Linked DNA regions of Homo sapiens. The protein of the gene in region 1 interacts with the protein of each later gene in a pairwise test. Each region holds a gene or a part of one and is shown in the gene's direction. Other genes may lie near its edges.

What was found.
Region 2: the proteins of CLTA (region 1) and CASP6 interact in binary tests that used the Homo sapiens proteins (3 or more experiments, as listed by UniProt).
Region 3: the proteins of CLTA (region 1) and CLSTN1 interact in binary tests that used the Homo sapiens proteins (3 or more experiments, as listed by UniProt).
Region 4: the proteins of CLTA (region 1) and TACC3 interact in binary tests that used the Homo sapiens proteins (3 or more experiments, as listed by UniProt).

Annotation. Positions count from the first base shown.
Region 1 is NC_000009.12:36,193,902-36,200,927, forward strand, and holds part of CLTA (clathrin light chain A), read left to right. Parts: intron 1-3,649; coding exon 3,650-3,687; intron 3,688-5,077; coding exon 5,078-5,195; intron 5,196-7,026. UniProt on the Homo sapiens protein: Clathrin is the major protein of the polyhedral coat of coated pits and vesicles.
Region 2 is NC_000004.12:109,688,119-109,693,462, reverse strand, and holds the end of CASP6 (caspase-6 isoform alpha precursor), read left to right. Parts: intron 1-2,453; coding exon 2,454-2,613; intron 2,614-3,894; coding exon 3,895-4,133; 3' UTR 4,134-4,835; downstream 4,836-5,344.
Region 3 is NC_000001.11:9,820,956-9,828,561, reverse strand, and holds the start of CLSTN1 (calsyntenin-1 isoform 1 precursor), read left to right. Parts: upstream 1-4,596; 5' UTR 4,597-4,828; coding exon 4,829-4,919; intron 4,920-7,606. UniProt on the Homo sapiens protein: Postsynaptic adhesion molecule that binds to presynaptic neurexins to mediate both excitatory and inhibitory synapse formation.
Region 4 is NC_000004.12:1,716,807-1,724,531, forward strand, and holds the start of TACC3 (transforming acidic coiled-coil-containing protein 3), read left to right. Parts: upstream 1-4,714; 5' UTR 4,715-4,837; exon of another isoform or gene 4,838-5,110; intron 5,111-6,614; 5' UTR 6,615-6,615; coding exon 6,616-6,777; intron 6,778-6,895; exon of another isoform or gene 6,896-6,921; coding exon 6,922-7,064; intron 7,065-7,725. Other genes in the region: TMEM129 (E3 ubiquitin-protein ligase TM129), read right to left, coding at 374-622, 710-869, 1,346-1,820, 3,827-4,031. UniProt on the Homo sapiens protein: Plays a role in the microtubule-dependent coupling of the nucleus and the centrosome. Involved in the processes that regulate centrosome-mediated interkinetic nuclear migration (INM) of neural progenitors.

The DNA of each region.
Region 1 (7,026 bases):
AGAACAGGTGGTCATGAAGGAGGCAGCACAAGTGGAGCTGTTGAAAAGCTCTCAATCATGAGGGCTGAGTCGGGGAAGAGAACAGGAGAGACAAGCCACAGAGAGAGTACAGCAGTAAGGCACTATTATGGTGTTTTGTTGTTTTTGAGACAGTCGCTCTGTCACCCAGGCTGGAGTGCAGTGGTGCGATCTCGGTTCACTGCAACCTCCGCCTCCTGGGTTCAAGCAGTTATCCTGCCTCAGCCTCCCGAGTAGCTGGGATTACAGGCGCCCACCACCGTGCCCAGCTAACTTTTTGTATTTTTAGTAGAGACGGGGTTTCACCATGTTGGCCAGACTGGTCTGAAACTCCTGACCTCAGGTGAGCCACCCGCCTTGGCCTCCCAAAGTGCTGGAATTACAGGTGTGAACCACCGCACCCGGTGACAAGTTATTTCTTGTAGGAGAAGAAAGAGACATGGGTGAATTAAAGGGAAGCTTTCTGGAGAAGTAATTTTATTGGTAGCAGTGGTGGAGGGAAGTTTAGGGAAATCTCATGCATGATAGTTAATTGTACTGCACATTTGCTGTATACCAGGTACACTTTCAGATCCCAGCAGTAGCTCCACAGGTTAAGTGGTAGTGTCATATTTCAGATGAGAATGGATCGGTGTGGAAGTTGAGCAGTGTCACTAAGGTAGCAAGGTAATAAATGGCTCAAGTGCAGCTTCAAACGTAGGTCTGCTTGACTTCAAATGTTTCTGGAATGTGGAAAGTTGAAAGTGGGTTTGGGACAGTCTTTCACTTTTGAAAACTGGCCCTTTTTCTGTCTGGAGTTCCTGAAAGGCCCTAGAAAGTTTCCTTCTGAAGCATCGTGTTGCTTAGTTTAGTTGTTGTAGTAAGTCAAGGCCCTACATGTCCTTTCTGCATGTTTCCACAGCAACAGACGATCCCTTGGCTTGAGCCAGTTGATTCTTGTAAGAATGTTAGTGCAGTAATACAGTAACTAATAAAGAGGAAAGCAGATGCCAGTGGGTCTGGAGGAGCCTTCAGACAGCATGTGATTTTTAAGGAGATGTGGGATGAGGATTGCTTCTTGTTTTGTATATGGAGTAGTGATCAAAGTCTCTCATATTCCAGCCCAGGGCTGGACTATATTAGTGGATAGTTGGTATGTCAATTGTACTATATTAACCATAATGTAGGCCTGGCCAGACTAGCCACTGTAGGATCTAGGATTTAAAACTATCTCACTCTTCTGTCTTACACAAAAATAAATTCCAGGTGGATTAAAGAGAGACATTTAAAAAGTAAAAGAAGAAAAGTGAGTATTTGTCTATCTCATAATAGGAAAGGCCTTCAGCATAAAAGCAGATACAGAAATCATGAAGAAAAAGTCGATCATGTCTACATACACAAATTAAGTTGTTCCAAGTGTTAAATACCATAAACCAAATCAAAAGAGAAACTAGGGAAAATATTTGACTATTAGAGAGCAAATACTTAGAGATCAAAAAATAGCAGGAAAATAGGCAAACTCAGAAAATTCAGTAAAGAAGAAAATCAGGTGTCGGGTATGTGATTACCTCACTGGAAATAAGATTGGCACAACAAAGCCACCATGAGTTTGTTTTTTTTTTCCATTATCAAATTAGCAAAAATTTTAAAACATGATCAAGCACAGTCCCTAGTATCAGGGAAGGTCTAAGAAATGGGGCACTTGTGCTGCTAGTAGTAATATAAACTGGTAGACTAATAGGAACAAGTGGGTAGAATTTTAGAAGTCTTTGAAATACATATCCTGGGCCAGGTGCGGTGGCTCACGCCTGAAATCCCAGCACTTTCGGAGGCTGAAGTGGGCGGATCACCTGAGGTCAGGAGTTTGAGACCAGCCTGACCAACATAGTGAAACCTCGTCTCTACTAAAAAATACAAAAATTAGCCGGGCATGGTGGCACGTGCCTGTAATCCCAGCTATTCGGGAGGCTGAGGCAGGAGAATCACTTGAACCTGGGAGGCGGAGGTTGCAGCAAGCCGAGATCGCGCCAGTGTACTCTAGCCTGGCCAACAGCGTGAGACTCCGTCTCAAAAAAAATAAAAAAATACATATCCTGGCTGGGCGCAGTGGCTCATGCCTGTAATCCCAGCACTTTGGGAGGCTGAGGTGGGTGGATCGTCTGAGGTCAGGAGTTCGAGACCATCCTGGCCAACGTGGTGAAACCCCCGTCTCTACTAAAACTACAAAAAAAATTAGGTGGGCATGATAGCTCACGCCTGTAGTCCCAGCTACTCAGGAGGCTGAGGCAAGAGAATCACTTGAACAACCCAGGAGGTGGAGGTTGCAGTGAGCCAAGATTGCACCACTGTACTCTAGCCTGGGCAACAGAGCAAGACTCTCTCTCAAAAAAAAATAAAATACATATCCTGTGATCCAGCAATTCCTTTTTTTTCTTTCTTTTTTCTTTTTTTTTTTTTTTATTTTTTGAGATGGAGTCTCGCTCCGTCACCCAGGCTGGAGTGCAGTGGCGCGATCTTGGCTCACTGCAACCTCTGCCTCCCGAGTTCAAGCAATTCTCCTCTTTCAGCCTCCTGAGTAGCTGGGATTACAGGCTCATGCCACCACCCTGGCTAATTTTTGTATTTTTAGTATATGGAGGTGGGTTTCACCATGTTGGCCAGGCAGGTCTTGAACTCCTGACCTCGAGTGATCCTCCCACCTTGGCCTCTCAAAGTGCTGGGATTATAGGTGTGAGCCACCGCGCCCAGCTGTAACCCAGCAATTCTACACCAAGAAATTTATTACAGAGGCGAAATTGAATATGCTTCCCCCATGCTTTCACTAGTTTGATAAACTTCATATTTCCAAAACTTTATAGAGTGCTTAAAAAACTACATAGGTAGGTGGCACATGCCTTAAAGTGGTAAAAGGCCACTGACAAACTATAAGAAACTCATTTTTGTACTGACATATAGGAGTAAAAGTCAACTAGGAAAATTAAGAAAAATATGAGAGGCCAGGCATGGTGGCTCATGCCTGTAATCCAATACTTTGGGAGACCGAGGCGGGTGGATCGCTTGAGTCCAGGAAATCGATAGCAGCCTGGGCAGCATGGCGAAACCCCCTTCCTACAAAAAAATAGAAAAATTATCCAGGCGTGGTGGCGCATGCCTGCAATCCCAGCTCCTGTGGGGACTGAGGTGGGAGGTTCGCTTGAGCCCAAAAGGTCGAGGCTACAGTAAGCCATGATTGGGCCACTTTGCTCCAGCCTGGGCGACAGAGCAAGACTGTCTCAAAGATGAAGCTGCAGGTCTCTGCTCACTATGGGTGATTCCAGGCCACACTTTTTTTTTTCCCTCATGCAGAATTTTCATAGAGAAACACTGTTCTCTTTCTGCTAGTCTTCCATTTGTTACCACTGTAAAATAGAAAACAGAAAATAAAATCAAAAGCTTTTGGACTTGGGAGCTTAAGGACAGATGTGTACACATTTTGGTGAAATTTGTATATAAGCACATCTTGGTTTTATTTGTTGTATATAGCACCTACCACAGGGATAGCATTTAGTAGCTCAAGGTTCATACAGCATATGATGCTGTATTCTACTGTACAACCCTTTGGCCCAGTGTTTGACCAGTCCTTATTGATAGACCAAAATCTTATGTCTTGCAGATGCTGTTGATGGAGTAATGAATGGTGAATACTACCAGGTACAGAGTACTCTGATTCTGTTCATTGATAGTGATTGAGAATCTTCCTTTCCTGTGATTTTAATTGACTGACCTAGAAAGAAACCCCAGTCCTTTGACTTTCCTGAATGTATTACTGGCTGGTGTGTTATCTACCAAAGTGGAAAGATTTAAAGAGAGGTAGCATTGATAAAAAGAGAACTGTTTAAAAATGTTATTTACCTGCCCCTAGTGTTATCACCTTTATTCTAAAGAAATCACCATTCAAATGATACTGTGTTGAGTGCAGTAAGTTAATACTAATACTTTAAATAATTCTCCTTCCATCTTTGTTTATAGTCTGATTAGGTTAACCTGGTAATATTAATATTCCTTAGTTCAGTGAGTGGCATATGGAATAATTTTGTAAAGATTAACATTTATTTGAGTCTTTTTTTTTTTTTTTTTTTTTGAGACAGTCTCACTGTCGCCCAGGCTAGAGTGCAGTGGCACGATCTTGTCTCATTGCAACCTCCACCTTCTGGGTTCAAGCGATTCATCCACTTCAGCCTCCTGAGTAGCTGGAATTACAGGCGCATGCCACCACGCCCGGCTAATTTTTTGTATTTTTAGTAGAGATGGGGTTTCGCCATGTTGGCCAGGCAGGTCTTGAACTCCTGGGCTCAAGTGACCATCCCGCCTTGGCCTCCCAAAGTGCTGGGATTACAGGCGTGAGCCACCGCACCCCGCCAGAGCCACCGCAACCTTGGCTCACTGCAGAACCCGTTTCTAACAACAATGGCGGCTTTTGTAAAATGTTAAAGGATTACCTTAAAAGCAACAACACAGGCCGGGCACGGTGGCTCACGCCTGTAATTCCAGCACTTTGGGAGGCTGGGGTGGGTGGATCATTTGAGGTCAAGAGTTCGAGACCAGCCTGGCCAACACAGTGAAACCCGTCTCTGCTAAAAATACAAAAATTAACCAGGCGGTAGTGGCATGTGCCTGTAATCCCAGCTACTGGGGAGGCTGAGGCAAGAGGAGAATTTGCTTGAACCCGGGGAGTAGAGGTTGCAGTTGGCCAAGATTGCGCCACTGCACTCCAGTCTGGGTGACAGAGTAAGACCCTGTCCCGTCCCCCCTTCCCCCACCCCAGAAAAAAAAAAAAAAAAAAGCAACCACATAGGCCAGGCGCAGGCACCTGTAATCTCAGCTACTCGGGAGGCTGAGGCAGGAGAATTGCTTGAACCCGGGAGGTGGAGGTTGCAGTGAGCCGAGATCGTGCCACTGCACTCCAGCCTTGGCGACAAGAGTGAAAACTCTGTCTCAAAAAAAAAAAAAAAAAACAGAACCAGGGGTTCTAACTCAGGTGAAGTGCATTTTAGGAAGGAATTTTTGGTATTAATATAGCACAATTGTGTTTTGTGTTAAGGAAAGTAATGGTCCAACAGACAGTTATGCAGCTATTTCACAAGTGGATCGATTGCAGTCAGAGCCTGAAAGTATCCGTAAATGGAGAGAAGAACAAATGGAACGCTTGGAAGCCCTTGGTAAGGAATCCCTTCTGTGTTTTGGTGTCTGTTTTCAGTGGAGTAGTTGAGCTGGACTCTACTTTTATTCCTTTTTAGCTCACATTAACCAGTGTCATTGTCTGGTCTTTGGGAAGATATCTTCTCAGCCTGAAGGTTACAAGGCTACCTGCACAGAGATGCCTAATCACAGGCCATTGTGTGAGGAGTAGGGTAGCCGGAGATCCCCAAGATCCTCTCACAGGAAGAGCATAGTGATGCTGCTCCTGACCTCAAGAGTAGCCTCAGGTGGTGTTTATAGAGTGCTTTATAAACTTGAAGGATTCAAGTTTCCTATGTCCGTGGACTTTAACAGTCCATTTTTCTTTTTTCTTTTTTCTTTTTTTTTTTTTGAGATGAAGTCTCACTCTGTTACCCAGGGTGGAGTGCAGTGGTGCGATCTCGGCTCATTGCAAGCTCTGCCTCCCGGGTTCACACCATTCTCCTGCCCTCAGCCTCCTGAGTAGCTGGGTCTACAGGCGCCCGCCACTACGTCCCGCTCATTTTTTTTTTGTATTTTTAGTAGAGACAGGGTTTCACCGTGTTAGCCAGGTTGGTCTCGATCTCCTGACCTTGTGATCCACACACCTTGGCCTCCTAAAATGCTGGGATTACAGGCGTGAGCCACCGCGCCCGGCCTCCATTTTTTATTTGAAGGCTAAATGAATTTAAAGTAACACGAGGAAAATGAGGTATGTTAGGAAAAAATGTACAATTTGTTTTTCCTACCTTAATATCTCTGTAAGGTAAGTTTTACAATTTTACAGGTAAGAAAAGTGGAGGAGAGGTAGAATAAGTATTTGGAATACTCAGCTAAGGAATGGTAAGAGTCACAATTTCAGCTGAAGTCTGCCTTGCTTCAAAGTCACTACCCATCCCCATCAGCCACATTGCTTTCTAAACATTTAATGTGCGTGGCCATCTAGCCACACAGCCTGGCCTTTGATAAAGAGATGTGTACGTGGAGTGTCACCTGTTGGTTCATGATCAGGGGAGACTTGTGTCTGTACATGGTGGATTGGAGAAGTATGCAGAGTGTGAGGATATAATCCACATTGTGGCCTTTTCTTTGTTTTTTCTTTTTCTTTTTTTAATCAGCTGACTTTAAGATTCATCTTTTCTCAACTTTACAGAACAATTGAAAGGAGGAAAATAAACATGTGCACCCCCAGATTCAGTAATTAATGGATTATCTTTATATAAATGATATGTTTTAGACATACACACACACAAATTGTTTTGGCTGACCTACTTTAAGATAAAGACATCATATACTTTGTGTCTAAATATTTCAATGTACACCTCCTAGAAATAATGACATTCTCCTATGTAACCACAACGTCAGCAGTATTATTCCCTCTTGGGAACTGTTGAACTAGTGAAAACATGAGTCCTTATTTTTCAGATGGGATAACTGACACCCAGAAATAGGAAGGGACATGACCCAGATGACACAGCCAATTAGTGCCAAATCATTTATCTCTCTAGTCCAATTTAGGTGGCTTTCAGAACAAAGAATGCACTTAGTATTTGAACCTTTATAGCACCATTCATTAGTGATTTCTTTGGTGGAAATATTCTGTATCTGTGCTGTCTCGTATGGTAGCCACTAACCACATGTAACTGTTAAGTACTTGAAGTGTGGCTTCACAATTCAAGTGTGACTGAGAAACTGAATTTTAAATTTTCTTTAATTTTAATAAATTTACATTGAAGTAGCCACATGTAGCTAGTAGCTACCATATTGGACAGTGGAGCTGTAGGAAGATGAAAATAGGTCCTAACAGCTTTGGTCCTTGCTTGTTCTTTGTGT
Region 2 (5,344 bases), on another chromosome or scaffold:
GCCCGCCTTGGCCTCCCAGAGTGTTGGGATTACAGGCGTGAGCCACTGTGCCCGGCCAAAGATTTTGAACTACAAAAGAGAAACCTGACATGCCAGTGTCACAATTCTGTATTTCCATGAATAGCATGGAGGACATGAAATAACATTATGTTAGTCTATTCTTGCATTGCTATAAAGACCTGAGACTGGGTAATTTATAAGGAAGAGAGATTTGATTGGCCTACAGTTCTGCAGGCTGTACAGGAAGCATGGTGCTGGCATCTGCTTCTGGTGAGGCCTTAGGAAGCTTACAATTATGGTGGAAGGTGACAGAGAGCCAGCATATGACTTGTTGGGAGTGGGAGCAAGAGAGTGCCAAGGGAGAGGTCCCAGACTCTCTTAAGTAACCAGATTTCATGTGAACTGAGTGGGAGCTCACTTACACCAAGAGGATGATGCTAAACCATTCATGAGAGACCCTCCCCGATGATCCAGTCACCTTCCACCAGGCTTCACCTCCCACACTGGGAACCACATTTTAACATGAGATTTGGAGGGGACAGACGTTCAAACCGTATCAAACATGAAACTGCATTTCGCATCCTACCATAAAGCCTTGTTTTGGGGTGAGGAAGTGGCTGTAAGTGAAGAATGACTGCCTCGTTTCTGGTTTGGACAACTGCATTGGAATGTCTGTGGGACATGGAATTGGTCATACAGGTGTAGAACCTAAGACAGGTGGCCTCGGCTGGAGAAATAAATCAGGAGGTGGTCGTGGAAGCCATGGGATTAGATGAGTTTACTCGTGTTGAATACAGCCTGAAAAAGGAGCATAAAACAAAACCGAGGGGCACCCATGAGGAATGGGCTGAAGAGGGAAGATACTGAGGAGGATGGACACCAGGAGAGAAACAAGAAACAAATAATGACATGATTGTTTTGTGAAAAGGGGAGTGGCCAACACTGTCAAACACAAGAGAATTGGAAATAACTAATGAGCTACTGTGGGAAGAAAGCCACAAATGAAATCGTTTTCCAAGTTACTTTCTCTCTCTATGCCTTAGATTCTTGGTAAAAAGAGCACCTGCCTCATGGGGTGGTTGTGTGGGCAAAATCACCTGACTGATTTAATGAATGCAAACCACTTAGAACAGTGCCTGGCATACAGCACGCCCTCAGTAAAGGCTCGCTCTTACTCTTATTGCAGTTGACTGGGCAGGTGATGTCATTAGGTTAAAGGTGTTCTGTTATATTTAGGAAGGACAGTAGAAAAAAGGCCTGAAAATAAGCCTGCTGATACGAAGATTAAAATCTGCCTATAAAAACGGGATAGTAGGGATTTTCTATTTATTTTATGATTTGAAATCATTCAGGACTTTCTTTTGATGCTCATAATTCTTTAACCATTTCAGAACTGATTGATGCATTTATAATGCTACAACAGAATCTTATTGGCTGGCTGTATTCGTGTATAGGGTGACCATAACAAAGTACCACAGACTGTGTGGTTTAAACAGCAGGAATTTATCGTCACAGTCCTGGAGCTGGAAGTCTCAGATGAACGTGTGGGGAGGATTGGTTTCTTCTGAGGCCTCCCTTTTTGGCTTGTAGGTGGCCATCTTGTCCCTGTGCCTTCATATGGTCTTTCTTCTGTGCATGTCTGTGTCCCAATTTCTTCTTATGAAGACACTAGTCATGTTGGATTTGGTTTCACCCGTATGACCTCATTTTCCTTAATCACCTCTAAAGGCCCTGTCTTCCAATACAGTCAGAGTTGAGGTATTGGGGCTAGGACTTCAACATATGAATTTTTGGGGAACACAATTCAGCTTGTAAAAGTCACTTATGAGAAGAGTTTAATGTTAGCCTCTGAGTGAGTCAGAATTTAATGTTAATTATGAGTCTAAATTTAATGTAAATTCTGAGTGAGTCAGAATTAGTGGGTAAAAATTTGAGACCTCACTTTTTAATGGGCACACAAGGAAGATGGTGCATTAGTAGGTATCTCCTCAGGTCAGGCTGGATGTCATTTTAACTCCTAACAATTTATAGCAGCAGCCAGGCAAGCAAAAGTCAATCTGGAAATACACTGCCTGCCTAAACAGAAACACTTAGGTCAATACTATAGCTTTCAAAAGGGAAGGTAACACCGTGTGCCCTGGGTGTGGTTAATCTGTAAGAAATTTTAAAACCACAAGCTTTTTCCTCTACAGTATACCCTTCTACCAACATAATTTGATGTATACTTGGGGATGCCAATTTTTTCTTAAAACATTAACTAAAAGAAAGCCTAAGTAAGGAAACAACTTTGTTGGCTTTTGTGCCCTCCAAACCTGAATGTATTGCTTCTGAACTGCTCAGAATGTGGTTTCTGTTGTAATGAAGGGGTACTGGCTTACACATTCACTGCACACATTAAGCACTGGGAAGGAAACAGTAGGCAAAGAGGTGGGTTTTTCCTCCTTGTCTTGTAGGCATGTCGGGGAAACCAGCACGATGTGCCAGTCATTCCTTTGGATGTAGTAGATAATCAGACAGAGAAGTTGGACACCAACATAACTGAGGTGGATGCAGCCTCCGTTTACACGCTGCCTGCTGGAGCTGACTTCCTCATGTGTTACTCTGTTGCAGAAGGTGTGTGGTGTTTAAAACAAACATATAATTGCCTCTCTTGGCTAAGGTCCTGTAAGTTTCACCTTTGATTGGTTTGGGTCAGATCTTTCGGTTGGGACATGGTGATTCCATCCTGAAGCTCACAGACTTAGAATTTCTTTGACCACATGGCACAGAGTGATAAATGAAAGTGTAAAGTACCTTACAGAAAAATAATTCCTGAGAGTTATGTTGAGTAAAGCAACAGTCTAATTAATTATATTAGTATTAGCAGCCTACCATCAGTTACTGAGGGTGGTAGTGCCATTGTGGTAATTGTCATGGAAAGCTTTAATTTTTTTTTTTTTTGAGACAAGGTCTCAACTCTGTCACTGAGGCTGAAGTGCAATGGCATGATCATGGCTCACTGCAGCCTCAATTTCTCAGGCTCAAGCAATCCTCCCACCTCAGCCCCCCTGTAGCTGGGACTATAGGCATGCACCACCATGCTTGGCTAACTTTTTAATTTTTCGGTAGAGATTGGGTCTTGCTATGTTGCCCAGGCTGGTCTCAAACAATCCTCCAGCCTTGGCCTCCCAAAGTGCTGGGAGTACAGGTATGAGCCATTGCGTGCGTGCGTGCGTTTTTTTTTTTTATAGTCTCACTCTGTTGCCCAGACGTGTGTGTGTGTGTGTATTTTTTTTTTTTTTTAATAGTCTCACTCTGTTGCCCAGGCGGGAGTGCAGTGGTCCAATGTCAGCTCACTGCAACCTCTGCCTCCTGGGTTCAAGTGATTCTCCTACCTCAGCCTCCCGAGTAGCTGGGAATACAGGTGCCTGCCACCACGCCAAGCTAATTTTTGTAGTTTTAGTAGAGATGGGGTTTCACCATGTTGGCCAGGCTGGTCTCGAACTCCTGACCTCAAGTGATCTGCCTGCCTCAGCCTCCCAAAGTGCTGGGATTATAGGCATGAGCCACCATGCCCAACTGAAAAATATTTTGATAATGGTTCTTTGCTTTTGTAGTAAATAATTTTGACTTCTTTTTAGTAATCTCATGTCTCAATCATTGTCTATCTTGGGAATTTTTTAGGAAATGGAAGAAATTATACAGAATTAACCCCGTGTATATAAAACTATATAGAATTAATCTCTTTTCCCATTTGAAAAGAGTCAAAAAAATTTAAAAGCCATTTATATCATGGACACATCTTAAGACTCTTCTAAGGATTTTTAAGAACTTATACTTCTGTAACTAAAAAGAATACACACAGTAATTGAAAGCCAGAAAACTGCAGCAACATTTTCCTTCTCACTTTTTTAGGATATTATTCTCACCGGGAAACTGTGAACGGCTCATGGTACATTCAAGATTTGTGTGAGATGTTGGGAAAATATGGCTCCTCCTTAGAGTTCACAGAACTCCTCACACTGGTGAACAGGAAAGTTTCTCAGCGCCGAGTGGACTTTTGCAAAGACCCAAGTGCAATTGGAAAGAAGCAGGTTCCCTGTTTTGCCTCAATGCTAACTAAAAAGCTGCATTTCTTTCCAAAATCTAATTAATTAATAGAGGCTATCTAATTTTACACTCTGTATTGAAAATGGCTTTCTCAGCCAGGCGTGGTTACTCACACCTGTAATCCCAGCACTTTGGGAGTCCAAGGTGGGCGGATCACCTGAGGTCGGGAGTTCGAGACCAGCCTGACCAACATGGAGAAGCCCCGTCTCTACTAAAAATGCAAAAAAAAATTTAGCTAGGCATGGCGGCGCATGCCTGCAATCCCAGCTACTTGGAAGGCTGAGGCAGGAGAATCACTTGAACCCAGGAGGTGGAGGCTGCGGTGAGCCGAGATTGCGCCATTGCACTCCAGCCTGGGCAACGAGTGAAACTCCGTCTCAAAAAAAAGAAAATGTCTTTCTCTTCCTTTTATATAAATATCGTTAGGGTGAAGCATTATGGTCTAATGATTCAAATGTTTTAAAGTTTAATGCCTAGCAGAGAACTGCCTTAAAAAAAAAAAAAAAAAGTTCATGTTGGCCATGGTGAAAGGGTTTGATATGGAGAAACAAAATCCTCAGGAAATTAGATAAATAAAAATTTATAAGCATTTGTATTATTTTTTAATAAACTGCAGGGTTACACAAAAATCTAGCTGATTTAACTTGTATTTTGTCACTTTTTTATAAAAGTTTATTGTTTGATGTTTTTAAAGGTTTTTGAAATCCAGGAATTAAATCATCCCTTAATAAAATATTCGAAATTCATATTTTATTACATTTTTCTAACTCACATTCTTGTTCATTTGTGTAATTGATAGATGTTTTTTACTCGGTCATTTAAATGTTTAATATTTCATCTACATATGAATTACCACATTTTGTGTATGACTTTAATTCCTACTTTAAAAAAAATCAGCATTCCAGAATTGTTGTATGGCATTCTGAGGATGAAATAGAAAACATAATTCTTAGCCACTATAGGTTGAACACCTGCAAAATCTGATTCTGTCAGCATCTTCCATGTTAAGTTCCTACAAACAGTCCAACAGTCATCAGACCCATTCACACACAATCACATTAATAGAATAACAGATGTTACTTTCAAGGTTCAATTCTTATTAATATGATATAGAATCTGAATAATACTGTTTTGTTAATAATCTGCCAGAGGCTGAAGAAAGTTAACTGTTTTGGCTTCGATACCTGAAACTTGTGATTTGCAGGTTCAAAAGCAATCGTTTATATACACTGTTTCAGTTGAAGTTCAAAAAGTA
Region 3 (7,606 bases), on another chromosome or scaffold:
GCCACCACATCCAGTTAATTTTTGTATTTTTAGTAGAGACTAAACTTGGAGTTTTGCCAAGTTGGCCACGCTGGTCTCACACTCCTGACCTCTGGTGATCTGCCCACTTTGGCCTTTTTTTTTTTTTTTTTTGTATTTTTAGTAGAGACTGGGTTTTGCAGTATTGGCCAGGCTGGTCTCAAACTCCAGACCTCAAATGATCTGCCCGCCTTGGCCTCCCAAAGTGCTGGGATTACAGGCGTGAGCCACCGCACCCAGCCAAATATTTAATATACTATAAAGCAAAATTAAATTGAAATTTTACCAAAAGGAAGGAAGTGGACAGAAATGGATTTGCACCATTCTGTCCAACCAGAGTCCTTGCTCCTAAGCACAGCATCATTTTCCTTCTCGTTAATTATCCCTTTTAACAGCAACGAAATGACCTGGCCGGCACACGAGAACACAGAGATGAGGCCACACCTTGTAATTTCTGGGGTTCTGAGGGGGACCCTGGTGGTGGTTCTGGGTGCTGCGGTTCTTTCAGTAAAGAACTTCCAGGAGTTTCTAATCAGCTGCTTTCATCAAGATTCTCATAACCTTCTCCTGCTGCCGCTTTCAAGTGGGTTTGTTCCCGAGCACATTATTAGGAAAGCGGCTATAATAACTGCTTACCTGCCTCCGGCTCCGCTCCACAAACACCCGCCAAGCCCACACTGTGCAAAACAGTAGTAACACGCCCGCCTGAGAATGGCTCCGCGGCTCCGCATTGCTGCCTAAGAGCTTTCCTGCATGTGATCTCATTTCATCCTCACCGCAACTCCGGGCCGGGGAACTCATGTCCCCGGTGAGGAAGTCCAGGCTTGAGATCGGCCTCAACAGTCGGAGGTGGCAAAGCCAGGGCTTGCTCGAAGCCCCACCTTCTCACTGTTGGGGAGCAGGCTGACTCCAAGCTGTGGAATCCTGTGCAGGGGTTATTTTGGTATCTGTGGGGTAATTTCACACTGAGGCTAAGTCACCGTTTTGGGTTCAGATGGACATGAAATTGAATCTCAGGGATCCAACTTTCTAGCAATGTACTCTGGAGCAAATTTGGTATTTTCCTCATCTGTAAAATAGGAACAATAAAAGTACCTTTTTTTTTTTTTTTTTTTGAGTTGGAGTCTTGCTCTGTTAACCCAAGCTTCAGTGCAGTGGCGCCATCTTGGCTCACTGCAACTTCTGCCTCCCAGGTTCAAGTGATTCTCCTGCCTCAGCCTCCCAAGTAGCTGGGATTACAGGCACCTGCCACCGTGCTTGGCTGATGTTTGTATTTTTAGTAGAGACAAAGTTTTGCCACGATGGCCAGGCTGGTCTCAAACTCCTGGCCTCAAGTGGTCTGCCCGCTTCAGCCTCCCAAAGTGCTGGGATTACAGGCATGAGCCACTGTGCCTGGCCAAAAATACCTTCTGGAGAGTGTTGCTGGAGTTACAGATGATATGTTATTGTGATATGGTATCAGCAACAGTCATCTCAGAAGGTGCAGCATCTTGGAAAATTTTCTTGTGTGCGCTTCATCTACTGTCTCAGATAGAGTCACTATACATTCAAAAGTACAGATCTTCCTCCACTAGCTAACAAAGTCACCTCCTTATCCTCAAGTCTATGTTCCCAGTTCAGGATGGGCCTGGGTGATGCCTCATTCCCCATGGCTCCAGGGCCTCTGATGCTGCCACTTTGTCAGTGGCTGGCTCAGCTCAGGCAAGGCCCCTCTCCCAGCTAACCATAGCATAAGCCTGAATCGATCCCTGTCTCAGGGCCATTTGGAGGATTAACTAATCCATCATGGGGGAAACCTTTGAAATGTGCCAATGTGGCTGAGGCTATTGTCAGGCAGAGCAGAAACTGAGTTTACTGGTTCCCCCGTTTCCGAGACTTTCAAGCTGGACTCACTCTCATGTGGGTGAAATCCCAGCAGGTGCAGGTTGCACTGAGCTCACCAAGCCGTCTATCTGCCCCACCTGACGCTGGATCTTTTTGACCTATCTCTGTTTCTTTAAGGGACAGTAAGGGTGAGAAGATAAAGGGATCAGGATTCCAGACACTGAAGAGCTTTTGTTTGTGTTTTTAATAGAACTGAACACATTAAATTTCCCCTTTTGGCATCATCAGTCTATGGACTGAAAACATAGTTCTGAGATTATACCTTTCCGATTTTATGTTTTGCAAATCTCGAAGGTCCCTGGAAATCTACAGGGTACATCTTTTTTCACCCTCTGAGATGTGAGCTCCATAATAATAAAACCTAACTCAGCAATTCATTGAGTTCATCACTATTTATTGAGTACCTACTCTGATCGCTGGTATACTAGAAGCACAGAAGCCTTCTTCTTGAAGGGAAAAAGAAACTCATGTATCTAGAAACACCAGGCTCTATGTGGCACTTTCATTTATTTGCCACATAAAGCCTGGTATTTCTAGATCTATGTGGCATCATTTCATTTAATTCTCACAACTCTAAGAAGTACATATTGTTCCATTTCGCAGGTGAGGAGATTCTGAAAGTTCCATAACCTGGCCAAGGTCGTTTGCATTTGCAGAGGCCAGCACTGAAGTCCAGTCCCGTCTGACTAGACCATCTGGGTCCTTCCCACTAGAATACAGTGGGGAGGAGAAAAGGACACTGATGGATTAGTCAGTCGACAGCACAGGCAGCAGATTATAAAGCTGAACTGTTTGGTTAGAGCAGCTCGGGGCTGGAGAGGGAGGGCTGGCAGGAGGACTTCCTGAAGGAGACAGCCCAGAAGCTCCTTGTAAGGACCTGAGGCTTGGGTATGGGTGGAGGAGGAAGTGTGATGTTGGCCCTGGGAGGGGAATGAATAAGAAGAGACAGTGGCAGACAGCATGCCCTGAGGTCAGCTGGGTGGAGGATGGGAAGCCCAGCAGAGATGTCTGGACCTGACGAGGTGGCAGCAGGGAGGCACTCACTGAGTTTATAACTCCAGGAGGGGCAGAAGCAATGGCAACACCCGTCACCAGGGGAGAGGATGACTCAAAGCCTTGGCTGGAAGGAGTGGTGGGTGTGGCTTGGAGCCTGCCCGGGCCAGGCAGGTGCTTTGGGAAGGGTCCAGCCAAGGAGAGTCCGGTCTTCCTCCACGCAGGGGAGGGGGAGCAGGGGAAGGAAGGAGAGACATTAACAAGATGGAATCTGTAGGCTTTGGTGCAGGACGCTTACGGGGAACACGGCTCAGGGAGTTGGATTCCAGATTGCTTTTGAAGCCTTCCCCAGGTCACATCACACCGCTGTTCCCAGCCGTTCCAGGTCTTCCTGTTGACTGTAGGATCAAGTCCATTCCCCCAATCTGACCTCAGTCTACGTTTTTGGGCTCTTTGCCCACTAGTCTCCTAAATAAGTCCTCTGCGCCCCACAAACCAGTCTCCACCCAGCCTCCAGTGCTGCCAGCCTCCTCCACCCCCACCTGGAGCAGTGACATTCATGGATAGCTCCTCCAGCGGTCTCGAAAAATGAACATTTTAGGGTTCCACTTTTTGCTGTTGGTGTCCCCCTAATGCGAACATCCTGTCCTTGAGGGCTGATTCTTTTTACAATAGTTGTCCCAACGGGGGAAGTCATTTCACCTTTCTGACTTAGTTTCCTTATCTGCAAAATGGAGCCAGTAGTGTCTCATAGGGTACAGTGCCTGCACACACGCCCATCCACGGCTGTTCCAGGCCTTTCCTCCACTGCGGGGGGGTGCCAGGGGTCCAGAGGCGAGGAGGAGGGGGCCGCTGGACGCTGGGAAATTGGGAGGACCCCAAGATCCCTGTAGGGATCCACGGTAGAGGGGGAGGGCTTCTCTGTCCTCTCTATCCATTCGGACCTCCGCATTTCTAAGAACCAGCATCGCACCATGTCACTGAGAAAGAGCGCGCACACCAGCCGCCTTTTGAAAGTCACAAATAGATTCCTTCAGTGAATTCAGGACAGACTCCCCGGGGGCAGGTCCCGGGGCGGGAGCCGGTGTGGGTAGTGCTGCGCGGCCCTTAACTGTTTACCAGGCGCGTTTCGCTGACCTCGTCTCCTGGACCCCCTTTCGTGACCCCTCTCAACACCTCTACTGGGGAGACGAGGACCCCGAGGTTCTGGGGGGCGACGCGACCTGCCCGAAGTGACAAGGGTCCTGGGCCGCACTGCTCCGCCGGGGTCTGCGCTCCTCGGCGGAGCGGGTGGGAAGGATGAGTCCTCGGGGTGGAGAAGGAGGAGCGGGTCCCCGGGTACCGCTCACCCGGCCTTAGGAGCCCGGGAGCGCGCGTAGGGACGCGGAGTTGAGGCTCTCCATCTGCGGCCAGGGAAAGGGATACAGTCCCCCGGGCCCCTCCCGGCCGCTCGGAACCCACCCCAGGCGCGTCCCCGCGGGCGCGCGCTCCAGGCGGGGCCGACGGGCTCGGAGGCGCGCGCCCGCTGCCGGGTCCGCCGCGCGCGCTCCCTCCGCTCCTCTCCCCCGCCCCTCCCGGGCCCGCGCGCTCCCAGGGTCCGCCGCGCGCGCGCCTCGCGTCGCTCCCCATCCCCGCCCCTCCCGCCGCCACCCCGCCCCCGGCCGGGTACCCTCGCCGGACCCGAGAGAGAGCGCCGCCGCCATCTTAGTTGCTGCCGCTGCCTTCAGCAAGACGCTGCTCTGAGGCGGGGAGGGCGCCGCGTCCTGAGCGCGCGGCCCAGCGTCACGGCGGCGGCGGCGGCGGCTCCTCCTTGGACCCCCGGAGCTCCCCGCGCCGCGGAGCAGCTAGCCCCAGGCCCCTAGAGCCCCGAGAGCTCCGAGAGCTCCGCTCGGCGTCCCGCGCGCCTCCCTGCCGCTCCCGCCCCGGGCTGGCGATGCTGCGCCGCCCCGCTCCCGCGCTGGCCCCGGCCGCCCGGCTGCTGCTGGCCGGGCTGCTGTGCGGCGGCGGGGTCTGGGCCGCGCGAGGTAAGCCCCGGGGCTGGGCCGGGCCGCTGGGTCGGTGCGGGATTCGGGTCCGGGTGCAGGATTCGGGTCCCGGTGCGGGGATTCGGGTCCGGGTGCGGGAGTAGGGCCGGATGCCGGGATTCGAGCCGGGATGCGGGGAGTCGGGTCCGAGCGCAGGGAGCCGGGTCAGGGCGTGGGGTTCGGGTTGGGGGTCGGGCTCGCGGAGCCGGGGCCAGGGCGCAGGAGACTGTGGGCGCGCGCTGCAGGCGTCCCGGGGAAGCCAGGCTCCGTCCCGGGCGGGGCTCCTGAGCCTGGGCTGCCCCCACTGCAGCCCATGGTGGTGGCTGCGCTGATTTGGGGGAACGTGCAGACGGGCCGAAGGGTCAGTCCGCCCTGCTCAGCGGCGCACGCAGGCTGGGGCTGCACCCCTGGGTGAGATGCTCTGTGTACGTGTGCTCAGATGTGCATCAGGCGGGGGGTGCACGCACAGTTTTGGTGTGTGCTTACATAAGAGCCCACTCCTCCGCATCCCGTTTCCAAGATCCCGATTCTGTGTTGCTGCACCGCGGACACCACGACTTCGCCCCTTTCCGCCTCCTCCCAGAGTCCTTCAGACGTTGTCTGTTTCCAGTGGAGCCGAGGCTGAAACTTAGTGCTTCCCTCCCACCTTTTCACCCAAAGGTGAAATCGCGATGAGATTTGCGACCGCGGGCTCACCCAGTGTTAGAAATCTCCGTCTCTGCTACCCCTGGTGCCTTGGTGCTGTTTTTCTGACGGTCATTTAGACCGTGGAGGGTTAGATGTTCTCTACAAAAACGAGAAACCTCTCTGGTTTTTTAGGATTGTAGGACCGAAATTATTTTATGGCTCGGTGGGAAGTAGTATTTCTTGGCTAATTTATTATTAGCTTTTAACCTTCATCCACTTAACCTTTTAAACCTTGCATGCCTCTGCTATTGACTGGTCTTGCCAACGAAAAGCTTACGCATTGCAGATACAGTATTTGCTTCTGAGTGGATCTTGAAATCGTAAACATTTTCCTTGGCCTTAGAGCAGAGTAATCTAGGTGTAGTCTGTAGAATCTACTGTAGGCTTAAATCTGTTGTTCTGATTTTTTTTTAATCAAAAGAAATTTTGGGGAGGAGGATTGATAGAAATCTAGATGAAATGGTCATATTTGAATTTAGCAAGCTTTTTAAAAATTCTTATTTTCCCTTCCCTGGCGTGACATAAGGAGAGAAGTATGGTGTTCACGAATTAAAGGGCAGAGGCGGCAAATGCATCTTTTGTTCCATGTTCCTTTCTAAACATCGAGGATGATAAACTTTGAATACTTCTTTTATTTCATTTCTAACATTCTGTTGACTCTGTCAAATTCAGATCTTAGTCACTAAGTATCTCATTGCTGGCCATTTGATTTTTAAAAGTAACATCAAGCTAAGTTTGAAATGTTCTTTCCAGATGTGGGTTGGAGGTCTGAAACTCTAATATATCCAAGAGAAATGTCAAAAGTTTTGCTTCTCTTGGGGAAAACCCACACATTTTAAAAATATGTGCTTGGATTGGGTATTTTGGGAACAGTTTAAGTATATTTAGTCAGTGATACCATTTCTTGTTAAAATTGGTGCTTTCTTAAATAGCACCTACATTTGTTAGTCATTATTTAATTGCCTTGGTTACTTAAACAGCATACATTTCAACTTTGAATATCTTCATTACCTGAGACCGACAGAAATCTTGTGTGAAAGGTGTGTTGGCTAGTTGAGTCATTTGTAATTTGCTTTCTCTAAGTTTTTCTTGGTGCAGTTACAGTAGTTCAAGATTCTTAGTCTTCGGAATAAAGACATTTTACACATCAGTTATTCGTATGCATTTTTTTCAGGTTGCAAGTTAGAAAATGTCTTGGAATTACACGAAATGCTAATAAACAATTTCATTTTGAAATATTACAAGTGAATTTCATATGTAAATTTACAGTTTGGAGACACTCTGTGGGCTCGTTTTAAGAGATCATTTCAACTAATTGAATTTTTTACGGCTGTAAGGCAGTACGACATGAACTCCTGTTCATGCTGTAGCTACCTTTAATCATTGTTAATGTTAGATTACGTACAGACTGCTGCAGAAAATGATAGATTTTCTAATATAAATTGCATCTTGACTCTTAGTTTTGTAGAGACCCTCAAATTTTATTTTAATTATAGCTGTAGTTCTCAAAAAACATTGAGTAGAGCTGGGTGCAGTGGCTTGCGCCTGTAATCCCAGCACTTTGGGAGGCCGAGGCCAGCGGATCACCTGAGGTCAGGAGTTCGAGACCAGCCTGGCCAACATGGTGAAACCCCATCTCTGCTAACTATATAAAAATTAGCTGGGTGTACTGGTGGACGCCTGTAACTCCAGCTACTTGGGAGGCTGAGGCAGGAGAATTGCTTGAACCCAGGAGGCGGAGGTTGCAGTGAGCCGAGATTGCGCCACTGCACTCCAGCCTGGGTGACAAAGCAAGACTCCATCTTAAAAACAAATTCAGTAAGCCAAAATATTAGAAGAAATATCTTTGGCATGCCCTGGACGGTCATGTCCTTCAGCTACCTGCCTTCTTCATGGAGATCGGGAAATAGAACAGTGAAGCAGAGAAAATAGAAAGCTTATATGAATATTTAAAAAATGCAACCATGTAATGCATTTCGAAGCCACTTAATACATAAAAT
Region 4 (7,725 bases), on another chromosome or scaffold:
TCCAGAGAAGTAAGGCAAATGGCCCAGATGACGACCACCTGGGGTAGACCCAGGGTCTCCAGGGAATGGCTCGGGGGCAGACGCTGTGTCTGTGTGTGCAGGATCTGCCCCCACCAGCAGGAAAGGGGCAGGAGGGAGGCAAAGAGGAGGTGCCCAGGACTTGTACCCTGGCTGCCAAGCAGGGTGGGGTGTTTTCATGAGGATTGCTTTTAACCAAAAGTCCTCAGCCTTCTGCAGACCCAGGGCAGAGGCGAGTTGCTCTACATCATGTGCTTTAAGTAGAGCCCTTTGCCAGCCAGGAGGCCCAGCCACCCCCTTCCCTGCCCTGTGGCTTTGGGGGGAGACACAGAGTCACCTCAAGGCCCCAGCCCACTCAGCGCACGGTGCACACATCCAGGATGCAGAAGCGTGCGCGGCAGGTGGGGCAGGGCACGCGGCTGGCCAGCCAGGTGTCAGGGCGCAGGGGGTCCTGGCGGCTGGCGAACCACTTGCCCATGCAGGTGAGGCACCACATGGGGCGGCAGTAACACTGCTGGCACTCGCCTGTGGCTGCCTCCTGGCAGGTCTTCACCAGCTTCACGCTGGCACGTGTCTGCATGCAGCCTATGCAGGCCTCCAGCTCCTGCGGGCAGGTGGAGCGTCACCAGGAGCCCAGGCAGACACCCGTGGGCACCCACCCATCCACCCGGCCCTGGCCCAGGCCCCCCACCTGGCTGCTGGGCACTGAGTAGGCCGGGTTGACCTCTACCAGGGAGGCAAATGTCTCCAGGAACAGGTCGCCCAGGCTCTGGTGGATGACCACATGGGCTGCCCTGCGGATGGGTGCCCGGAGCTTCTCGCAGAGCTCCCCGTACTCAGTGGAGTTCAGCCTGCAGGGAGGAGAGCTGCTGGGCCCCTCTGCAGGGCAAAGGGAGCGGAAGATGGAGGCTACACCCCAAGGAGTGACAGGGCAGCTGTCGCACCAGGACCAACCAGGAGAGATGGCCCTAAGGCCAGAGCCCACGGACCCAGTGCCAGACAGCCCAGCCTGGGCACGGGACGGACCTAGGAGCAAGGCAGCTGTCCAGCCTGAGGGCTGCACTGTCCTGAGTGCTCCCCAAGAATCTGGGGGAGGTGGCTCCAGGGAGTGGAAGGGGAGGCCAAGAGTGCAGGGGGACCCGAGGGAGGGCTATGCGGGAGGGCTCAGTGACTGGTGTCTTGTGGACACCTTGCCTGGTGTCACACAAGCCCAGGAGTGTTGGAGTCCACACCAGCTACACCCAGCACCTCCCAGGGGTCGTGGCACCAGAGCCTGGCTCTGGCCTGCCATGTGCCCTCCGCAGCCCCACAGGCACCACACTCTTACCAGATGTCAAAGGCCTGCACAGCAGGGTTGGTGCTGGCCACACGGATGGTGAGGAGCTGCACGGGCAAGTTCGAGTCTGGCGAGAGCTCATGCTGCCGAGACTCCGTCACAGTCAGGTGCACGTCCTGCTGCTGGGCCACGTGCACTCGGTAGGTGGTTACCTTCATCACCCACGTGTCTGTCACAATCACACGGGCACCTGGTGCACCGGTGGCAAACTTGTCAATCCGCCGGAACTCAGTGTTGACAGAGGAGGCAACAGCCTGCCAGCCAGACTGTGGGAGGGCGTAGAGGGCCAGGGTGCGCGCCAGTGGGTGGCAGGCCCACCGGTCACGGGACCAGTAGTAGATCAGGATGCAGGCGATGGAGGGGAGGGTCACGGCCAGCAGCAGGAAGAGCCGCCAGGCCTCAGGGGCCTGGCTGAGGGCGTGGAGCCGCTTTTCTGAAGCCGCAAGGCACATGCCCACATAGTAGCCTGCAAAGGACAGGGTGAGCCTCAGGGGAAAGTGAGTGGCAGGCCGCTGTCCACCCCCCGACAGCCCTGGACCTGGCCCTCTGCCCGGGTTCCAGGGTCAGCTCCCAGGGTAATTGGGCTTTACCCACTCTGCACTTCCCCAGCCGGCCACTCTCTCCCTGCCTGTGGCAAAGGCAGGATATATTAGCGGAAAAGGTTTTTAATTTGCTGCTTTAGTTTCACACAATACGTAAGTGTTGAAAAAACTACAAAAGCCTAGAAAGGGAAAAATAAACACAATCAGGTGTCACCTCAGGCAGAGCTGACCCCTGGCCTGCCAGGGCAGCTGCCTGGACAGGATCTCAGTCTCTCAATCTCACCCGCTCTGAGGAGGCTGATCAAATGTGGTGCATCCCAGAGCTGAAAAGTTATGTGCGAGAAAGGAAGCAAGTCTCAAAGAATGATGGGACATGTCCAGAGGACACGGAGCCAGCTTCAGGGCCCTGCTGGCCAGATCGAGGACAATTTGAAGGTCCAAATAAGCCATGGAGATGGTGAGGAGTTGCACCAGCAGGTTCCAGTTGGCAAAAAGTAATAGTCCACATTTGGAGTTGGCCCAGTCACTGCATTTCAAGGTAACATGACATATAACAATAGGTAACTAGGGGCCGGGTGCAGTGGCTCACACCTGTAATCCCAGCACTTTGGGAAGCCGAGGCGGACGGATCACGAGGTCAGATCGAGACCATCCTGGCTAACACGGTGAAACCCCATCTCCACTAAAAAATACAAAAAATTAGCCGGGCGTGGTGGCGGGCGCCTGTAGTCCCAGCTACTCAGGAGGCCGAAGTTGCAGTGAGCCGAGATCATGCCACTGCACTCCAGCCTGGGTGACAGAGCGAGGCTCCGTCTCAAAAAGTAAAAATAAAAATAAAACAGGTAACTAATACCTAATAAAGCTTGAAAACTTTCAAACTAAGTTAAAAATAAAAAGAGCTTGACATCCGACTGTGAGGCCAGCTGTGCTGTCTGCTCCAGGTGTGGCTGCCACAATTCACTTGTGGTCCCTCATAGGCCTCTGGGGAGGGTGCAGCTGGAAGGGCTACAGAAACCCACCCAGTAGCCCTAGAAAGTGGCCTGGTCAGGGCCCCAGCCCCACTCAGCCCCATCCATCTCTCAAGTGGGCCCCCAGCCCACCCTCTCCATGAGGCAGGCCTGGGCGCCTCCACCCGACACCTGCCTCCAGTTCTTCTGGGCCCAGGCAGCTGCATCCTCAAACCAGGATGTGGAGGGTCACCCCTCTTGTATCCCCAGAGTGGCAAACCTGGCCAGCCACTGGCCATCTGTCCTCCCAGGGCTGCGTCTGCCCCCGTGTCCTCCAGAGGTACCCCCTTGAAATCCCCCTCCAGCCACTGCACACCCCACCTCCCACCTGTCCGTCATCCAATCAGCTGAGAGAGGGACCTTCCAGAGCCCCAGCTAGCACCTGGGGCCCAGCCCAGCACCCCCCTGGACAACTCTGAGCGTCCCACCTGCACTGCACAGAGGCCCTCCCCAGCCTCTGCCCCTGTGGCGCCCCCAAACTGGAACTGCCTCCAAATCCGCCTGTTCTCTCCACACCCACCTTCCAAGGCCTAGTGCAGTGCCACCCTCCACACAGCCCCTCCGACCCCTTCCGTTGGACTCAATCAACAGTTGCCTTCTCCTGGCCACTGCCCCCAACCACGACAAGCAAGGGCTGCTTGGCCTTGCAACCCCCAGGCACGTGACGGTTCAGGACTTGGTGGGCCGGAGCATCCCTTGCCCAAGGTTCTGAACTTGGGTTCCCGTCACCTGCAAGTCAGTGCCGGCGGCGCCCCTAAGCGCGCTCAGCCCACGCCGCGGTCCCTCTGGATGAGGACCGGCGCCTCTCCCCAGCTGCGCCCAGGCGCTTTCGGGGCCTCGGGGAGCTGGCGGAGGCCTCCTCCTGACCTCCCAGCAAGCCCTGCGCAGGAGAGGATGCGGCCGGCCGGCCCGAGCAGCCTCACCGAGCGGCAGCAGCGAGTGGCACAACAGCGTGGCGGCCGTGCGGCGCAAGTGGAAGGGCACGAAGGCGGCGTCCTCGCTGCCCAGCCAGCCCGACAGCAGGTTCTGCACCGTGAGCCCCGCCGCGTGGAACTCGTTGGGCGTGAACACGAAGCACACGGCGAACACCAGATAGGCGAGAGTGAAGGTCACCTCGGGGCTGTCCATCGCGCAGCCGCCGGGAAGCTGTCGAGCTAGGCCCCCGCCCCGGCGCGCGGACGAGGCCGCAGCGCCCAGTCCCGGACCTGTCGGTTGCGGCGGCCGCCGCCCGGCCGCCCGCGGGGCACTCTAGGACATGGAGTCCCGCCGCCCGGCCGCCCGCGGGGCACTCTAGGACATGGAGTCCCGCCGCCCGGCCGCCCGCGGGGCACTCTAGGACATGGAGTCCCGCCGCCCGGCCGCCCGCGGGGCACTCTAGGGCATGGAGTCCCGCCGCTCGGCCGCTCGCGGGGCGCTCTGGGAGATGCAGTCCCCGTGCGGGTGCGGCCTCTCTTCTCGGCCGGCCCTGGAGGCGGCACCGCACCTGTGCATTGAGCACAGGTGGGGAAACTTAGGCCTGAGCGAGGCCCTGGCCATGAAGCCCCGCCCAGTAGCGTCAGTTGCGGAACTCGAAATTCATGGGGCGACTGCGAGCCCGGGGTCTCAGCTTCAGACACCCTGGCGTGCCCTCCACTCCGGAAACGGAACCGTCGGCGCCCGAGCGGGGGGTGGGGGGGGAGGGAGGGCGGAGCCGGCGAGGCACAGCTTCCCATTGGACGCCCGCCCTCCTGCGGTCCTGCCCCCGGCCGCGCGCTGATTGGCCGCGCGAAGGCAACCGTCGGCGTTTGAAACTCCGGCGCGCCGGCGGCCATCAAGGGCTAGAAGCGCGACGGCGGTAGCAGCTAGGCTTGGCCCCCGGCGTGGAGCAGACGCGGACCCCTCCTTCCTGGCGGCGGCGGCGCGGGCTCAGAGCCCGGCAACGGGCGGGCGGGCAGGTAGGAGAGCGGCTACACGGCGCGGGGAGGCTGGGGTCCTGGGGGCGCGAGGCCGTCCCGCCCCGCCCCGCCCTCGGCCCTCGCCCTCCCGCCCCGGCCGCCGCTTTCCCCGGGAAGCGTCCCCCACGGCTCCTCCTGGGGCCGCCGCCAGAACCTGTACCGCGCCCTGTCATGGGACCCGGCCCTAGACCGACCGCCGGGCTGGGCCCCCTGGATGGTGGCCAGGGGCGGCTAGAGCTGGGCCAAGACCGACGGCGGAGCGGGCGCCCCGAGGTGCTTTGCTCTCCTCGACCCTCTCCTGTCTCTCGGTCGCCCACCTTGGCTCTTTGTTGGCTCCCAGCACGCGGACCCTCCTGTTGTTCTTTGGTCCCTTCCGGCCTCCGTCCTGGGGCCAACTCCATCTAGGCCGCCTGCGGCGGACACCTGGGCCCCTACCGCTTCCCCGCACCTGCTGCGCCGCTCCACCTTCCCCCCGCACCGCATCCCTCTTGTGCACCAGAGTAGCACCAAAGCACCAGCCTGGGGCCGGTCCCTTCTCTGCCCAGAGCCCCTCCCGGGCCTCCATAGTCAGTAAAGGCCCCTCCTGACTAAGGCTGGGTCTGCTGCTCTCCCGAGCTCCTCCAGGCCGCCAGAAGGCTTCCTCCGAGTCACTTTCTCCCTGAGTTCGAGGCTTGCGGGTCCCCCAGCGATCCAGCACCCCTTCCCCTGCCCTGTACCCAGTTATTCAGGGCGAAAACCTAAGCGTCGTCCGTAAGTCCCATATGTGCCAGTGGCCAGGCCCGGGTCTGGTCTGGCATCTACTCCTTGGGCTCCAGAAGCCTGTGGTTTCCCTGCTTCCCTTCTGCTCTTAACCTCCCCACCCACACACAGCACCACAGTGGGCTTCTCAAGCTGCAGCACCGACCTGCCGGGGCTGCCCCCTCTCTCTTCTCCAGGACCCTCCCCAACTTTGCTCTTCTTCAAATCAAAGCCTCCCCAGGTCCCCCTCCACCACCAGGTGCCTGTGGGGTTCCTGCCCTGGTCGACACTCGGTTCTCTCTGGCAGCCTTTTTCCCTACGTCATTCCCTAGACTGGGAACGCTGTAGACAGAAAGGGTGGCAAGTGTGTGGGTGACCGGCGTGAGGACCTGGGCAGCCCTGGAACCTGGGACTGACTGGAGGCTCTGATGTGGAAGTTCCTTGGCACCTGTTGCTCAGCTCTGGGCTTCCCTTGTTTGCGCATCGTCTCCCAGCTCCTCCTCTGGGCCTTCACCCTCTCAGCCTGGTCTTGTCCCGCTGCCTAGCCCGGTGGGAGAGAGCAGACCAGAGCCGCTGTCCTGCTTTTCTGCCCTCTACTGCCCGGTCCTGCCTCACGTCACACGCAGAGGCCTGTGGGGAGACCAGGGCTTCCTCTGGCTCATCCGGGTTTCTTATTGGCCCGGGCTTTTCCGTCTCTTGACTTCTGCTTGATATAGTAATACAGCAGTAGAGATTATGCAGGCTTGGGTTTTCTTTCTCACCATCTCAGCCTGAAGGCCCTTTAGCTCTTGGTCCCAGGAAGCAGCAGTGCTGCCCATGGCTCCCCCTGCCAGGCTGGAGAGTGAGTCTCTGAAGCAAGATGGGGACTCAGTCTGAGGCTTTCTCTGCCAAGAGACACGTGTGGGAGGTGTGAGTTCCAGAGCAATGAGCACACCTGTGTGGGAAGTGGTCGTGCCCCTTGCAGCAGCTGTCACGTCTGTGTCTGGACAATGTGGTAGTGTTGCCCTCACACTGACACAAACATGTTCTGCTTTTCCAGAATGAGTCTGCAGGTCTTAAACGACAAAAATGTCAGCAATGAAAAAAATACAGAAAATTGCGACTTCCTGTTTTCGCCACCAGAAGTTACCGGAAGATCGTCTGTTCTTCGTGTGTCACAGAAAGAAAATGTGCCACCCAAGAACCTGGCCAAAGCTATGAAGGTAAGTGTGACCTGTACAGTGTGTGGCTGGCCAGGTTGCCCTAGGGCCTGCTTTCTTGGTGACCTCTGAGCTGCAGGACACTGCTGGTGTGGCTGTAACAGCTTGAACTAATGAATAGGTGCTCTCCTCCTCACTCCGCAACAGGTGACTTTTCAGACACCTCTGCGGGATCCACAGACGCACAGGATTCTAAGTCCTAGCATGGCCAGCAAACTTGAGGCTCCTTTCACTCAGGATGACACCCTTGGACTGGAAAACTCACACCCGGTCTGGACACAGAAAGAGAAGTAAGTGTTGGTGCTGCTGGACATGCTGGAGCTTCACCCTCTCTGTCCGATGGTTCTTGCAGGAAAGTGCTGTCTTGTTCTATCAGGCCTTGGCTGGATTTTTTGTTTGTTTGTTTGAGATGGAGTCTCGCTCTGTTGCCCACGCTGGAGTGCAGTGGCGCGATGTCCGCTCACTGCAAGCTCCGCCCCCCAGGTTCATGCCATTCTCCTGCCTCAGCCTTCCAAGTAGCTGGGACTACAGGCGCCTGCCACCACGCCCGGCTAATTTTTTTGTATTTTTAGTAAAGAAGGGGTTTCACCGTGTTAGCCAGGATGGTCTTGATCTCCTCCTGACCTCATGATGCGCCCGCCTTGGCCTCACAAAGTGCTGGGATTACAGGTGTGAGCCACCACGCCCGGCCGGCCTTGGCTGGATTTCTCCTGAAATCTGCACTGAGTGTATGCAGCATATGGCCAGTTCACTAACAGAAAAGTCGATCATCAGATACTTGGATAACTTCATACTTCACTTTTTTTTTTTTTTTTTTTTTTTTTTCTGGAGACAGAGTCTGGCTCTGTCACCCAGGCTGGAGTGCAGTGGCTCGATTTCGGCTCACTGCAAACTCCACCTCCCAGGTTCATGCCATTCTCCTGCCTCAGCCTCCCGAGTAGCTGGGGCTAC